Regions from separate parts of the Homo sapiens genome. Here region 1 is linked to region 2. The links come from fine-mapping of genetic effects on gene expression. A gene starts in region 2. The other region holds a variant in brackets. All regions are shown on one strand. Distances are from middle to middle.

Region 1 (2,906 bases), 57 kb after region 2:
TGCTAGTTAAATTTTAATAGTCATGTTTTTCTTAGTAGGTGTGCATGTGGAAGCATGTATGTGAGTCTTCTATATTCTGCTTTTGATGCATTCATACTGGAAAGGGGGCACTGCCACCAATCATTGAACAGTAATTCATTCAGCTGTTTGGGAAGTATATTAGTGGATGTACGGCCTTAGATTAGTTCCTAGGCTTTCACATTTTTCTTCAGTGAACATGCAGATTTAAACACATTTGAATAAGCTGAGACCTACCTCTGCCTATGAACACACTGATTTGGGAGACATAAAATTGCTACTTTAATTTCTGTTTCTTTCTCACCAGGCAAGTGAGGTAGGTGGGTGTGTGTGAACTCTGTATTAGTAAATGCTCATTCAGAAAAGCATAATATCTTTCCTCCTCCCTCCTGCCCACCTTTACCCCGTGCATATTGTGGCATGGTGTGTGTGGTGTGTGGCCTAATTACAAAATAGGCCACATCGTACTCCAAGAAATGCATTGCTGGCCATGTGAACTTTACCACCTATGCTTTGAAACTGGAGCTGGACTCTCTATTCTGTGCAAGAATTAAGCCCCATATGCAAGAGTCAGATTCTGCTCACTCATATAGTTCTGGGAATTGCACTGACATTCGGCATTTATTAGTAATGTTCAGGGTCTTTGGGTGTTTTCCTGTTCCATGTTCTAAAGAATTGATGAGAAATGCTTACTCTGGGGCCATTCTGTGCACTTCATTATGCTTTAATGACATTTTTTTATTGCCCAGAAACTTAATGTAACCACTTCTTTTTTCCCCTTTTAAGGTTTGAACAGGCTTTTATTACCAGTTTGATCAGTAGTGTGGTAAAAATGAAGGACAGTTATTTTTGGATAGCTCTTCAGGACCAAAATGATACGGGAGAATACACTTGGAAGCCAGTAGGGCAGAAACCCGAGCCGGTGCAGTACACACACTGGAACACACACCAGCCGCGTGAGTAGAGTGTGCTGCATCACCAACCCTCCCTGTTTTCTTTACTCCAAATTCCTTCCACCCCTTGGCCCACCTCCTTTGATTCTTTCTTAATGTTTTCTTAATGCCTAAATCAATTACAAGGATCAACACAGGTTAACAGGGGGTGACATATGGCTGATCTTTGTTTTTATTTATTTTATTTGTTTGTTTGTTTGTTTGTTTGTTTGTTTGTTTTGAGACGAGGTCTCGCTCTGTCACCCAGCCTGGAGTGCAGTGGTGCAATCTCGGTTCACTGCAGCCTTGACCTCCTGGGCTCAAGTGATTCTCCCACCTCAGCCTCCCCAGTAGCTGGGACCACAGGCATGCGCCACCACACCCAGCTAATTTTTGTATTTTCTGTAGAGACAGACTGATATTGAACTCCTGGGCTCAAGCAATCCTCCCACCTTGGCCTCCCAAAGTGCTGGGATTATAGACATGAGCCAAATTGCCTGGCCCAATGGTCATTTTTAAAAGTATAATCCGTATGAGTCATTTGACATGTTAAAGGTATAAATTCATCGCTCAGGACCACCACTGCCTTTATTAGCAGCAAGTCCAG[C/T]TTCTCCCTCCTAATGTCTTTCTCCCCACCTGCACCCCCCACTGTCTAAGAATCTCAAGTGCTTACTCAGTTCAGAATGGTCAGTTAAACTTCAAAGTACGGTGGATGGGCACATATGGGTACATCCAATCAGTTCACAGTCACTGCCTGGGGTACCTTAGCCAGGATTCCAGCGTTAACAGCTCTACTAGTTCATCCTCAGGTGTTCAGCTCTGAATCCCAAGGCATGAAACTGTGCCAGGTTGGTCAGTACCAGAGAAGCTGATGTCTTCCGCCACAGCCTACACTAGAACCAGTCTCTGTGGAACAAGCTTCAGGCCCTTGTATTAAGCTGAGGTTGACAGCCTAGACCCAACAGCCCTTCTACTTCAGGGTGAGTTCTTGCTTGCCTGTATCTCCATCAGGGCTGTGCCAGAGACAACAGCAAAGAGTTACTAAGTTTGTATCTAGAGGAAATGGCTTAGGGGCCCCAGGCTCTTCCCTCCCTGAAGGCCCGGAGCTCTTTATACAAATTGGTCTATTCCATCCTCAGAGCTCTATATACCAAGGTAAGGAAAGTGTTTGCTAAGCCACAGGGGGAGGTATATCTCCCCTTTAGTGTGGCCTCACACTAAAATATAAAAGTGGCCACACAAGCCTTGTTTCTCATAATTACAAAAGTCCAGTCCAAGGTGGTTTGCTAATCCCAACTCTAGACAGTGGTTGGCAAAGCTCCACCGATTTTTAAAATTCAACGATGAAATCATGAATATATTCTTACTATAGATAATGTGACCATATACCTCATTTGCCCAGAACAGTTCTAATTTATGTCTGGTGTCCCAGAGCAATTAACAGCAGGTATTTTTACTCCAAATTTTTCTGGCTTGGATGGTAAATTATGTAGATGCTCTAATTATAGAGAAGTGTGCTAAGTAAAATGTGGAAGTACTCCGTTACATCTTTCTCTTCACCTTCCCAACATCAATACATTTCCCTTTTCAGAAACAACCACTGTTAACTGTTTGGTATGATCCTGCTGGTGTTTGTCTATGCATTGCATTTAAATACATTTATGCATATGTACTTTTTAAATGGATATAAGGATTGCATGTTTCTGTTATTTGATTTTTTTCACTTAGCAATCTGTCTTAGAGAACTTTCCACATCAATATTTATTAGTCGACATTTGAAACAGCTACATAGAATTTCATAGTATGTAGGACTCATAATTTGCTTTGCCATGACCCTGTTGAAGGACATTGGGTGAAATTCATTTTCATTTCTGCTACAAAAGTGTTACAACAAATATCTCTATGTTGATGTCGCTGTGCATAACTATGAGCATGTTGGCCTAAAAGTGTACATCT
Region 2 (2,906 bases):
CTGTCCCCCACCCCCCAACCCTCTGAGAAACAACCTGACAGCGCCTCACCTTTTGCCATGCTATGCACCCAGGGCTTCTAAGAGACAAGGTATGGGACCATGACTGAAACTCACCACTGCTGTAGAACAGTGCAGAGGAGTTAATAACCCTAGGATCTCCCTTACCAACAGGGAAGGATAAAGTCCATGGATAAACGCTTGCCCCTTTTGTCCTCGACAGACAGTTCTGAGGCTCTCTGAGGTTCCTGCAGGACTGAGCACCTTTTGTTAAGGCCATGGCCAAGGCAACCACTTTCCCTTCTTCCCCATTTGGCTCTGACCTTCAATCTTGCTCCCTGCTAGGCATTTCCTTCCAGGCTCTGCTTTCTGCCCCTCCCCTCCCCCTCTCTTATGTTTTAATGACTAATGTCAAGGTCCCGCTGAGGAAAGGTCTTATATGAGCCTGTTCTCAGAATATTAAACGCTTCCAGTGTTCTGCTGGTTATTTGAAGGAGGACAGTTAGAACGACTACATTCTAGCCAGGGCTGTCCTACTTGCTAGAGAGTAACTTTTGCTGGATTAGGAAGTAACCTAGAGCAAAGCACTTCGACTTTCTGGGCAGGGTTTCTCAGCTGTAAAAATGGGATAATAGGGACCCCGGCTACTTTGCGGGGCTTGGGGGATCAAAGGAGTTGGAAAGAGGAGGTTATTTCAAAACCGAAGGAGCTGAATAGAAGAATCTCCGGGTTACTCTGGGGCAAGGAAGGTGGAGACCACGGCGTGGCCCCTCAGGTGTCTCCAGTGCTCCACAAGTCAAAGGAGTCCAGGACCCTCCCAAAGCGCCTGCGTCGCGGAGCAGCTGGGTTCACTCTAGGCTGCCCGCTGCAAATCCGCGGTGTTTACCAGAATCCAGGTGGTTTGCAAACCCGGATGTCAGGCTCCTTGTCCCGGAGATTCTCAAATCGCTCACCCACAACTCCTCTTCGGCCTCCCCCAGAAAGGAGAGAGCAGGGCTGCAAGCTAGAGGAGCGGAGAGTGTGACCCGAGCAGCCTCACTCCGCCTGTCCCCACCCCAAAGGCAGGAATTTCTGGGATGGGCAGATGGCCCACCCCTCCTCCTCCTCCTTCCCCAAGCCGCAGTGGGTGGGGCGAGGAAAACCTCCGCGACTTTCCCGCATCCCAGCCCAGAGCCCCGAGTGTCGGTTCACTGTGGAGACAGCGGTGGCGGAGTGGGTCTCCAGGGCTCTGGGCTGGCAAGGCCCCCGGAGGGGGTGGGGCGCGGAGGAGGCTACGGATCCGCTTCCGCGCGGCGGGGCCGGGTGCTTGGGACGCGGCTCTGGGCTCCCGGGATAAGGGGCTCCCGGGACAAGGGGCTCCCGGAGAGCCCAGTGGTTAGCGATGCTGCTGTCGCCGTCGCTGCTGCTGCTGCTGCTGCTGGGGGCGCCGCGGGGCTGCGCCGAGGGTGTGGCGGCGGCGCTTACCCCCGAGCGGCTCCTGGAGTGGCAGGGTGAGTCTCCCAGGGTCGGGGACTGGATCGGTACGTTGGGGAGGGGGGTCGGGGTGGTCGAAGGAGAGGAAGAAGGGGCGAAGCTAGGGGCCAAGCTGGCGGGCAAGGGCGGCCGCGTTTGTAGGGGTTCGTGTGTCAGCAGTCCTGAGCATGGGGGGAGCGGGTGGTGTCCTGCAGCCTCTTGTCTAGGCCCAGCACCCCACTTGCGCGGCCCGGCACCCTCCTGGCTCCTGCGGGGGTCGGGCGGCGGGGGCGGGGGGGCTTGGTCTCGCAGGTAACTCCTCTCGGCTCTGGCGCCCGGAGCCAGCCCGGGATAGGAGTGTCGGAGAAGTTTCAAAACGGAAACTTTCTGAGAGCTGCTTATTTGGGACGGATAAATGATAGCAAAAAGATGGCTCAGTTCGTCCCCTTGCAAAGCAAGCGCTCAGGGTCTGCGTCGCCACCTAGGAGTGACCCCCAAGCCAGGCCTCCCCAGTCCATCCCTTCCTTAAGGAAAACTTTTTTTGTTTGTTTGTTTTTTGAGACAGGGTCTTGCTCTGTCGCCCAGGCTGTAGTGTAATGGCGGGATCTCGGCTCACTGCAGCCTCCGCCTCCCGGGGTCAAGCGATCCTCCCACCTCAGCCTCCCGAGTAGCTGGGACCACAGGTGTGCGCCCGCACGCCCAGCAAAATTTTTGTATTTTTGGTGGAGACGGAGTTTCACCATGTTGCCCAGGCTGGTCTCCAACTCCTGGGCCCAAGTGATCCGCCCACCTCGTCCTCCCAAAGTTCTGGGATTACAGGCCTGACCCACCGCACCCCGCCTGAAAACATCAGGCCAGGTGAGGGAGAGAAGCCCCAGTGGCTCCATGAACTGCGTGATCTGAAGCCTTTATGCCTTAGTCTCTCTCAGTGGAAAAACGGGGTTCAATTCAGCAAACACTTATTGAGCACCTACTACACATGAGACTCAGAAGGTTGTGTAAAGAGAGGGAGGAGAGATTTCTGGCCTGCAGGGGCCCGCATTTGAGAATGGGCCACCTCAGGCAGAGAAGCCTGCGCCTAAGTGCAGAAGTCCATATATGCAAGTAGGAGGGGGACAGGAGGGAGTTAAATATGCCAGGAGGAGCCTCCAGACAGCCTCCATCCTCTCTGCCTTTGGAGATAAGTTTGGAGAGAAGGGGTAACACAAGATGTGATCAATATCTGCGTTCACATTTTTTCCTCCACAGTAGAATATGTCTACATTTTTGAGGTAGTCTTTTCTAGACTGTGTTTCCTAAGCTCCCTGGAGGCTTAATCAGGGGCAGGTAGAACAAGACCATTCTTATTCTAAAGTGACCAAAGTCAGAGATGCTCTTACCTTCTTGGTCAATTCAGAAAATTGCTCCTGTGGATGCACATCTGATCCTGTAGTATGTATGATTCCTTCCCACTAAGT

What was found. PIP is the estimated chance that this variant, and not a neighbour inherited with it, causes the effect.
Region 1: its variant is fine-mapped to the expression of PLA2R1 in lung (TOPMed, PIP 0.98).

What each region holds. Positions count from the first base shown.
Region 1 is chr2:160,003,720-160,006,625 of GRCh38, reverse strand. It overlaps PLA2R1 (phospholipase A2 receptor 1), which reads left to right. Exons shown (of 30, transcript NM_007366.5): 11 at 805-974. Among named protein-coding and RNA genes, the nearest start is that of PLA2R1, 57 kb to the left of the region's middle. The variant C/T (reference allele first, on the strand shown) is at 1,558.
Region 2 is chr2:160,060,876-160,063,781 of GRCh38, reverse strand. It overlaps PLA2R1 (phospholipase A2 receptor 1), which reads left to right and starts at 1,167. Exons shown (of 30, transcript NM_007366.5): 1 at 1,167-1,487. The coding sequence starts at 1,379.